3 linked regions of the Homo sapiens genome follow. The protein of the gene in region 2 purifies or fractionates together with the protein of the main gene of each other region. This does not show direct contact. Each region holds a gene or a part of one and is shown on either strand. Other genes may lie near its edges. The genes, in order: NPEPPS, EPHX2 and ACAA2.

Evidence for each region.
Region 1: the proteins of EPHX2 (region 2) and NPEPPS fractionate together in Homo sapiens (co-fractionation; one large-scale study listed by BioGRID). This does not show direct contact.
Region 3: the proteins of EPHX2 (region 2) and ACAA2 fractionate together in Homo sapiens (co-fractionation; one large-scale study listed by BioGRID). This does not show direct contact.

The regions. Positions count from the first base shown.
Region 1 is NC_000017.11:47,618,094-47,621,083, reverse strand, and holds part of NPEPPS (puromycin-sensitive aminopeptidase), read right to left. Parts: intron 2,735-2,990; coding exon 2,627-2,734; intron 2,076-2,626; coding exon 1,920-2,075; intron 1,807-1,919; coding exon of another isoform or gene 1,712-1,806; intron 1,348-1,711; coding exon 1,300-1,347; intron 1-1,299. UniProt on the Homo sapiens protein: Aminopeptidase with broad substrate specificity for several peptides. Involved in proteolytic events essential for cell growth and viability. May act as regulator of neuropeptide activity.
Region 2 is NC_000008.11:27,501,128-27,504,783, reverse strand, and holds part of EPHX2 (bifunctional epoxide hydrolase 2), read right to left. Parts: intron 1,181-3,656; coding exon 1,021-1,180; intron 1-1,020. UniProt on the Homo sapiens protein: Bifunctional enzyme. The C-terminal domain has epoxide hydrolase activity and acts on epoxides (alkene oxides, oxiranes) and arene oxides. Plays a role in xenobiotic metabolism by degrading potentially toxic epoxides.
Region 3 is NC_000018.10:49,796,451-49,800,106, forward strand, and holds part of ACAA2 (3-ketoacyl-CoA thiolase, mitochondrial), read right to left. Parts: intron 1,145-3,656; coding exon 1,016-1,144; intron 1-1,015. UniProt on the Homo sapiens protein: In the production of energy from fats, this is one of the enzymes that catalyzes the last step of the mitochondrial beta-oxidation pathway, an aerobic process breaking down fatty acids into acetyl-CoA.

The sequences.
Region 1 (2,990 bases), on a different chromosome or scaffold from region 2:
TTAACTTCCTGGGTAGCTGGGACCACAAGCGTGCACTCCCAGGCCAAATTGTTTTTTCCTTTTTGTAGAGATGGGGTCCTACCATGTTGCCCAGACTGGTCTTGAACTCTTGAACTCAAGCAATCCTCCCACCTCAGCCTCCCAAAATGCTGGAATTACAGGAATCCAACATTTTTAATACAGTAAACCAAACAATTTCTAAGTTTACAATTTATCACAATGCTTAATGATTAAAAGTTGAATAAACTTTTCTAATGCAGTACACCTGGTTTCACAGAAAACAAAGCAACTCTTAAACACCAGCTGGCAAAATGATAGGGCTTTTCCTTTGAATTAGTCACCACAGGTGTGAAAGACAGAATGACTAATCCATCTGATTAAACATAGACCTTTTAGAAATCAATAACCTTATTTACACAGATGACAATTGCTACTGTTCCAAGGCTCCTAATCATGGTTCAGTTCTCAGGGCCTCAAGTCTTTTTCCATTCCATCGCAGAGTAGTACCAACATTTATACACCAGAAACCTGGGGATTATCCTGGCTTGTTTTTCTTCCTCTCCCAGATATGCTCACAACAGAGAAGCCAATCAATAAATATTGTTGAACTAAATGGTTAACAAATTCAAGCCCCTGAATCTCCATTATTCCATCTCCTCCACTACTGCCACTACCCTACTGTAAGCTATTCTATCATTCTTGCTAGGAGAGTTAGCTTCCCAACATCTTCTCTTCCCCATTCCAAACTATTATCCACATTGCAGCCAGACTGAAATTTTTATAACACAAATCAGATCAAGGCACTGCCTTGTTTATAAACCATTCGAAGGCTTTCCATTTTTAGGACTTTTTTTTTTTTTTTTTTTTTTGAGACAGGAGTCTCGCTCTGTCACCCAGGCTGGAGTGCAATGGCACGATCTCAGCTCACTGCAACCTCCACCTCCCGGGCTCAAGCAATTCTCCTGCCTCAGCCTCCCGAGTAGCTGGGATTAGAGGCGTGCACCACCATGTCCAGCTAATTTGGGGTTTCACCATGTTGCCCGGGCTGGTCTTGAAGTCCTGACCTCAGGTGATCCACCCACCTCGGCCTCCCAAAGTGCTGAGATTACAGATGTGAGCTACCATGCCTGGCCATTTTTAGGAAATTCTTAATATGGCCTATACAGCCCTGCATGATGTCTTTCTCTAAACAAAAACACAGAGATGCTACAGTACATTATCCCAACACTATAATTACAACCAGGTTATTGTTTTTACTTACTAGACTGAAAAGTGAAGAGTAAACAGTATTTTCCTTACCTTAACCTCTCCAGCCATTTTATCAACTGCAAATCCCTCAACTGATAGCTGCAAAACAATGGTTTTAAACAGTAAGTGAAACCAAGAGGCTGAGAACAAACTTCCATTTACCCTAAAAATAAATCATTCTGTTCTCTGCCAACTTCAGTCTGTTATAAAGGATGTGTGATGGGAGATGGAGAAGTCCTTAAATAAAGCCAGTAACTATTTAAGGAAACTTTTTTTTTTTTGAGACGGAGTTTCACACTTGTTGCCCAGGCTGGAGTGCAATGACCTCATCTCGGCTCACCACAACCTCTGCCTCCCAGGTTCAAGCGATTCTCCTGCCTCAGCCTCCCAAGTAGCTGGGATTACAGGCACACACCACCACGCTCAGCTAATTTTTGTATTTTTAGTAGGGACAGGATTTCACCATGTTGGCCAGGATAGTCTCGAACTCCCGACCTCAGGTGATCTGCCCACCTCGGCGTCCCAAAGTGCTGGTATTACAGGCGTGAGCCACTGCACCTGGCCACAGGAAACATTTAAAGAGCAAAGACCACAATGTATGGGTGTAGTGAATCATGGATGTCACTAAATAATATCCATGATTAGCAAGCTACTCAAAGTTTTTCACATACCTTTATTAGTCTGGATATTAAGAATCCTCCCTGGTATCGGTTATAAAGTTCTTCCCAGTTGTCCTTTATGAATTTCCAAGCAGCTTTCCTACCATGCTTGCTGCCTCCAGCTACTCCACCAATTACCGATACAGTGTCCTGTGGACGTACCTCTTCCTAAAAAAAGAAAGAGAGCTAAAAGTCTAGTGTATCAAAAACATATTCTGGTACCAGAAAGTGCACCATACTGTGACACTGAAGTAATCACACTGAAGACACTTATTCCTTGTTTTAGGAATAACTGGAACCAGAAGTTCTCAGCAAAGAAGATAATGTTTAAGCTAAAGATAACCAAAATGAGAATGAGGTACTGAGACAGGTTCAGACAGACAGACTGCTCAACAGATACTTGCTTAGGAGCCTATAGGTTTAAGAAAGGAAGAGACACAAAGTAAGCAAAGGCATAAGCCAGTTTCCCAGTTTTCAAGAGTCCCTGTCCTCATAGTTTCCATTCTGGAGAGACAATTTGTTTACTCTCCCAACTATTCTGATTCTCGCCACTAGTGGGAGAAAAACAGAAGTCAGTAACAAAAACTCAAGCCAGTTACTCTGGAAAAGGAAGCTTTAGTTAGGGTTAAGGCAGCTCAAGAGGATCAGAGCTGAATCAGAGACACTTCTCAGAGATGGGTAACGATTCACTTCTAAATGCAGTTTTCACCGTAACTTACTGAAAGTGCAAACGTGAGGACTTTTTGAATCAGGTCAGGCAAAAGAGTAGCGCCAAGGACTCTTTCGATTCGGTTTTTCTCTTCTTGCATATCTGCTTGTTTATGAAGCTACAGGAAAAAAGATAAAGATAGGAATAGTTAACTCTCCCTTGGATGTTCTGCATATGATTATATGAGCTTCTTCCCCAGTAAGGTAAAACTTAGGTTCTATATTCTCACTAGGTAAGAATGGCAGGGCATTATATTAAAGAAAGAGAATACTTTTCAAGATGCTTTGGGCCAGGTGCGGTGGTTCACACCTGTAATCCCAGCACTTTGGGAGGCCGAGGCGGGTGGATCACCTGAGGTCAAGAGTTCGAGATCA
Region 2 (3,656 bases):
CACCTCTGACACAGACACAAGCATGAGCTGGGTTCATTCAAGGCCCTCAGAAGCCTAGATGGAGAAACTACCCTCCTTCCTCCTTGACAACAGTGGAGCAGCACTTATACATTCATCAGCTCATTTTGATCTCTACCACCTCAGGGGTGGACAGGGCCAATCCTACCCTCCCAGATTCACAGATCAGCAAACAAGCTCAGACAAGTTACGAGCTGCCCAGAGCCACATGGTGAAGGTCCAGCATTCTTTCTAGTCCATGCTACTGAAAACACTGCTTGACTAAATTCCAGAATACCTGCCTTGGCAATCAGGGACTAGGTTTCTATTTCAAAACTAGAGAAGTGTACATAGAAATAGGATTATCCCCTGGCTTTATCTGCCTAACCAGCGAGGGTGAGAACTAGGCAATGCTGGAAAGAAGACACTGAAGAGTTGATGGTGAGACTCTTCCCACGCAATAGGAGGGAAGAGTTGCAGACATGGGATGGCTCAGCCACAACCAGGTAAGTCTACTGATAAGAGGGTGGAATAGTTTCAATATGCCTATGACAAGAGTCAGGTGTTCACACCAAGTCAACGCCTATGGATGAACTTGACCTCATGTCTTAGACTATGTGACATAATCTGAGCCCATGTCAGCCAACTCATAGCTTGGACACTCTGATACCCAGAGGCTAAGAAAATCACAGTTGCTAAAAAGGCCTTGTTTCTTAATCACTGTGACAAAAGATCATGTCATTTGGGTCATTACTAAAGTGCCATTGAAGGGGAGAATGATGTTCACAAGGCAGTCATGGGCATCAATTGCTTTATTAAGTAAAATCCTGCCATTTTTCCAGCTTTTCTAATAGTGCTGCTTTTGCCATTGGATAAAACTTGCTTTGGGGCCATGTTTAAAGAGGCTTTCCATCGTGGCTCAGAAGATCTGTGATCTCAAAGCTCACTTCAATGGATTCTGACCTAATGCTCCCGAGGGTTCTGGGTGGTTCGGCCTGAGATTGGCCAGTATCAGATCCTTACCTTTCTTCCTGAGCATGAGAGCTGCCTGGAGCATGGGGCGGTTGATCTTTCTGGCTGAAATCGCCTTGTCAAAGATTTCTTTTATGGAGAAATTCTTGGGGAGGCAGACTTTAGCGGTCTCGGAGCACTTCCTGCAGTTTTCTTCCATGAGTGGTATCCACTGTCAAAGTGAAGTGAGGGGACAATTTGTATGGCCACTCAGAAAAGCTCTGGCAGGGTCTACTAAATCTAAACATATACATTCCCTGTGACCAAGCAATTCCACTCCTGGACACATACCCACTGGAAATGCCAACATATGTTCTCCAAGAGACATGGCCAAAAATGTTCATAGCTATACTCTTCCTAGGAGTCCCAAACCAGAAACGACCCAAATGCCCACTAACAGCAGAATGGATAGATTGTATTATATTCACCCACAGTCATAGCAGTGCTATTCCTAAGAGCCCTGTCTTAGCCCATCTCAGCTGCTATAACAAAAGACCAGAGGCTGGGTGGCTCATAAACAGCAGAAATTTATTTCTTACAGTGCTGAAGGCTGGGAAGTCCAAGATCAAGGCTCCAGCAGATTTGGTGTCTGGTTAGGGCTTGCCTTCTATTTCACAGATGGCACCTTCTTGCTGTCTTCACATGGTAGAAGGGGCTCGATAGCTCTCTGGGATCTCTTTTATAAGTGCACTGATCTCACTCCTGAGGGTTCCACCCTCATGACCCAATTACTTCCTGAAGGCCCCACCTCTTAATAACATCACCTTGGGGGTTAGGATTTCAACATAGGGATTTTGGGCGGGGGGCACAAACACTTGGACCATAGCAAGCCCCAAACTGGAACTACCCAAATGTCCACTGTTATGGGCTAAACTGTGTCCTCCCCAAAATTCCTGTGTTGAAGTCCTAGCCCCCAGAGTCTCATGATGTGACTATATTTGGAAATCAGGCCTTTAAAGAGGTACTTAAGGTAAAATGAAGTCATTATGACGAATCTTAATCCAATATGACTGGTGCCCAAATAAGAAGAGGAGATGAGGACATAGACACACACAGGGATGACCATGTGAGGACACAGGGAGAAGACAGCCAAGAACTTGCTTTTTTTCCCCTGTCTCTCTGCTTTCTACCATGTGAGGATACAGCAAGAAGGTGGCCATCTGCAAACCAAGAAGAGAGCCCTCACCAGACACTGAACCTGCCAGTGCCTTCATCTTGGACTTCCCAGCCTCCAGAACTGTGAGCTATAAATGTCTGTTGTTTCAGTCACACAGTCTATGGCATATTTGCTGTAGGTAGCAGCTGAAGGTGCTATGTAAGACACAGCCCTAGCAAACTAATACACTCACTAATAGCAGAATGGATTGTTATATATACACATCATCATAGCAGCACTATTTGTAATAGTCCCAAACTGAAAACTACCCAGAACCCCATCAATAGAAGAATGGATAGATTGGGGTATATGAATGTGATGGAATGTCATGCAGCAATGAGAATAAAATGATCTATGGCAGCATGCAACAACGATGAGTCTCACTCATACAATGTTGAGCAAAAGATGCCAGACGCAAAAGAGCTGATGTGCACAATTCCATTTACATAAAGTCCAAAACAGGTAAAAGTGATCTATTGGGATAGAAGTTAGAATGGTAATACTCTTGGAGGGATGGTATCCAGAGCGGGGTTATGTGTTGCCTACAGCGCTGAGAATGTTTTATTTCTTGATCTGGGTGCTGGTGACAGCAGTATACTTAGTGTGTGAAAAGTCATCAAGCTGTATGCTATGTGTACTTTTCTGTCTGTATAGTATATACACATGAAAAGTTAAAAGATGACATTCACTCCCAAGATAAGACTTTTTTTTTTAAGACAAGTCAAGTGTAAATAGCCTTAGCATGATATAATTTAGTTTTCCAGGCTTCTTCCCTCTAGCCATGCCAGTTTCCTAGAAGTTACACACAGACTATCAGAAGCCACCAAAGGAGTCTGAATGAAACGCAGGATTTTCATAGCAATTACTAGAAATTCACTCTAAATTCTGTATGTTCATTGAAAATATAGGCTGGGCATGGTGGCTCATACCTGTAATCCTAGCACTTTGGAACACCAAGGTGGGTGTATCATTTGAACCCAGGAGTTCTAGACCAGTCTGGGTAACACGGTGAAACCCCATTTCTAGCAATAATAATAATAATACAAAAAACAGCTGGGCATGGTGATGTGTGCCTGTAATCCCAGCTACTTGGGAGGCTGAGGTGGGAGGATCATCTGAGCCCAGGAGGTAAAGGCTGCAGTGAGCCATGATCATGCCACTGCACTCCAGCCTAGGCAATAGAGTGAGAACCTGTCTCAGAAAAAGAAGAAAGAAGAAAGAAGAAAGAAGAAGAAGAAGAAGAAGAAGAAGAAGAAGAAGAAGAAGAAGAAGAAGAAGAAGAAGAAGAAGAAGAAAATATATAGCATTTCCCTCTTTCTTACCTTCCAACAATATTACTGAGGTTTTTTTATGGATTAAATAAAAAGTCAATAATTCAATAATGTTCTTCCCAATAGTTTCATCACAGTTTTCGTTCACCATTTGCCACAATATATTAGCAAGTATGTTTTAAGGTGACTGCAATACTCCCATTAATACCATTAAAACAACA
Region 3 (3,656 bases), on a different chromosome or scaffold from region 2:
GATATATCGTTATAGAAACAAATTAATGTGAAAATTGTTTTATTAAAATACGCCTCTGGCTCTTATTTTGTTTGTAATAAAATGAAGACTTTTACAAATGAAATTGGATTTCACTTTCTTCTCTGTGCTCAAAGAAACAAATGTATTTAACCAACTGTCCTTTAAAAAGGTCAAACTAGTTTGTACTTCTACTAACAGCATCATTCACTTCCTTTGAAATAAAATACATTTCCTTATCCTCTCCTAAATTCTTGAGATTTCCTGCTTGCCTCACGGTCTTTATTCAGTGCCTCACAGGTAACACTCACAGACCTGGGTTCAAATTCTATGACTGAGTAACCTTAATGGCTTTAATCAGTTTCCTTGCCTGTAAAATGGGAATAATAATAATAGTTCTTGCTTCATAGGATGGTTGTAAGATTAAATGAGATATTGAATGTAAATCTAGCAGGGTGCCTAGCATGTAGGAAGCACTCGAAAGAATGATGAACATACTAGCTTTTAAAAATATTGAAGTATATATATATATATAATACTTACCATTTTAACCATTTTTAAGTATACAGCTCAGTAGTTTAAGTGTATTCATAGTGTGATGCAACCATTACCATCACCCATCTCCAGAACGCTTTTCATCTTGCAAAACTGAAACTCCATATCCATTAAACACTAACTTTCCCTCACCAGTCCCTGGGAACACCATTCTACTTTCTGTCTCTATGAATTTGACTACGCTAGGTATCTCAAAGAAGTAGAAACATACAGTATTTGTCCTTTTATGACAGGCTTATTCCACTTTCAGGTTCATTATTAGCTTTTTTTTTTTTTTCTTTTTTTTGGAGCCAAGGTCTCACTCTGTTGCCCATGGCTGGAGTGCAGTGGTATGATCATGGTTTACTTGACCTCCAGGGCTCAAGCAATCCTCCCTAAAGCTAAAGTGTTATATTGCAGTGGGACATTTCTTCTAGTAACTATTAACATATTTTCAGAGAATTTAAAAAAATGTTGTCCATACCTGACATCCATTCACAATGGACTGAAAACCAGAACCACAGAGCCTATTAATCGTGAGAGCTGGGGTCTCCTTTGGGATTCCCACACGCAAACCAACATGCCTTGCCAAATATATAGCATCTGAAGAACTCTAGAAGAGAGAAGGAAAAGAAAAATAATTTTCTCTATAAATCTACTAATTAAGAACAAGCACGAAATACATGGAAATGTTGGCAATCTATCAAAAATGATAAACTATATGGCTCTAAGGTAGGACAAAATGCATCTAAGTACAGCATATTATATCTAATATGTGTTTACAATTTGAATAAAAACTACAGTCAATTGGGTTTTTTTCTATTTTTTTATTGGGGCAAAATACACATAACAAAATGTATCATTGTAACCATTTTTAAGTGTATAGTTCAATGGTATTATTTAAATACATTCATAATGTTGTGTAACCACAGTCAATTGGTTTTCAAATATATTAAAGATAATTGCTACTTAGAGAAATCCCATTAAGTCCTTAATATAAGACAGAAATTTATAACAATTAGAGTTATTTAAAAATGGAATACGCTATCCTAAAGTAGTATGCTCCTTAACAGAGGAAGTATCGGAGGCTGTGGTTCTCAACCTTGGTTGCAGGCTGGAATAACCTAGGAAGCTTTATTAACATACTCATGCTTAAGTTCCTAAGCAAATCAATTAAACCAGAAAGGCTGGAGGTGGGGCCTGGGCATCAGTAGTCACTTTTAAAAAGCATCCCAAGTAATTCTAATGTAAAACAGGCTGAGGACTGCATACTTAGGGAGAAGACAGATGAATGATTGGTCAGGAGAGTAAGAGGTAGGAGTAGACCACCACTCCCAAAACTTTAAAATGCATATGGGGGCGTCTTGTTATAATAAAATGTAAGTTCTGAATCAACAGGTCTAGGTCTGCCGGAGATTCTGCATTTCTAACCATTTCCCTGGTGAAGCTGATGTTGCTAGTCCAAGAACCACACTTTGAATAAAAAGAATGACTTAAAAAAAAAAAACCAACAACAACCAAAAACATTAACAGCCTGTTTTGGAGGCTGTTAGCAAGAGCAAAAGCAAGTTTGACAAAATGTAAAACATTGGTCTATCAAGGTACGGGGTTTTAGGATGTTCATTGTACTATTCTTTTAACTTTTGTGTAGGTTTCAAGTTTTTCAAAACTTGACAAATTCGGCACATTTATAAGTTAAGGGTTTTGAATGCAGATGGAACTGGGAGGAACTCAGTATAACATCAATTAATCTACTAACTAAATGTTTCATCTGTTGACTGAGATGAAATTATCTTATTTTACAAATTAATGTCATTAAAAAAATTCTTGGCCAATGGATATTCTTTTGCCAAGGTTTGTCAAATATCACATATCAACAGAATAAAAAAAATTTACACGATCATCTCGTGTAAATTATTAACAGATAAATATTTGGGGTTAGGCCTTTATGGTTAAGAGAGAACAGAATATGCTTCGAATAACATTTGACAAATACCACAAAGCTGCTTTTCTAATTGAGTTTAATATTATTAAATATCACTTGGAATAAATGAGTTTTACTTATTTCTTAGGAAACAATGAAATCCAATGTGGATTTCAACACAAAAAGTCAACAGAAAAAGTATTTGACAAAATACAACACCCTTTCATGACAAAAACACTGAACAAACTAGGAACAGATGGCAACTTTCTCAATCTGACAAAGGGAATCTATAAAAAATCCACAGCTCTCCCTCTCCCCCTCCTCCTCCCCCTCTCCCCACGGTCTCCCTCTGATGCCTAGCTGAAGCTGGACTGTACTGCTGCCATCTCGGCTCACTGCAACCTCCCTGCCTGATTCTCCTGCCTCAGCCTGCTGAGTGCCTGCGATTGCAGGCACGCGCCGCCACGCCTGACTGGTTTTCGTATTTTTTTGGTGGAGACGGGGTTTCGCTGTGTTGGCCTGGCTGGTCTCCAGCTCCTAACCGCGAGTGATCCGCCAGCCTCGGCCTCCCGGGGTGCTGGGATTGCGGACGGAGTCTTGTTCACTCAGTGCTCAATAGTGCCCAGGCTGGAGTGCAGTGGCGTGATCTCTGCTCGCTACAACCTCCACCTCCCAGCCGCCTGCCTTGGCCTCCCAAAGTGCCGAGATTGCAGCCTCTGCCCGGCTGCCACCCCGTCTGGGAAGTGAGGAGCGTCTCTGCCTGGCCACCCATCGTCTGGGATGTGGGGAGCCCCTCTGCCTGGCTGCCCAGTCTGGAAAGTGAGGAGCGTCTCTGCCTGGCCGCCATCCCATCTAGGAAGTGAGGGGCGCCTCTTCCCAGCCGCCATCCCGTCTAGGAGGTGAGGAGCGTCTCTGCCCGGCCGCCCATCATCTGGGATGTGGGGAGCGCCTCTGCCCGGCCGCGACCCCATCTGGGAGGTGAGGAGCGTCTCTGCCCGGCTGCCCCATCTGAGAAGTGAGGAGACCCTCTGCCCGGCAACCGCCCCGTCTAAGTGAGGAGCCCCTCCGCCCGGCAGCCACCCCATCTGAGAAGTGAGGAGCCCCTCCGCCTGGCAGCCACCCTGTCTGGGAAGTGAGGAGCGTCTCCGCCCGGCAACCACGCCATCCGGGAGGGAGGTGGGGGTCAGCCCCCACCAGGCCA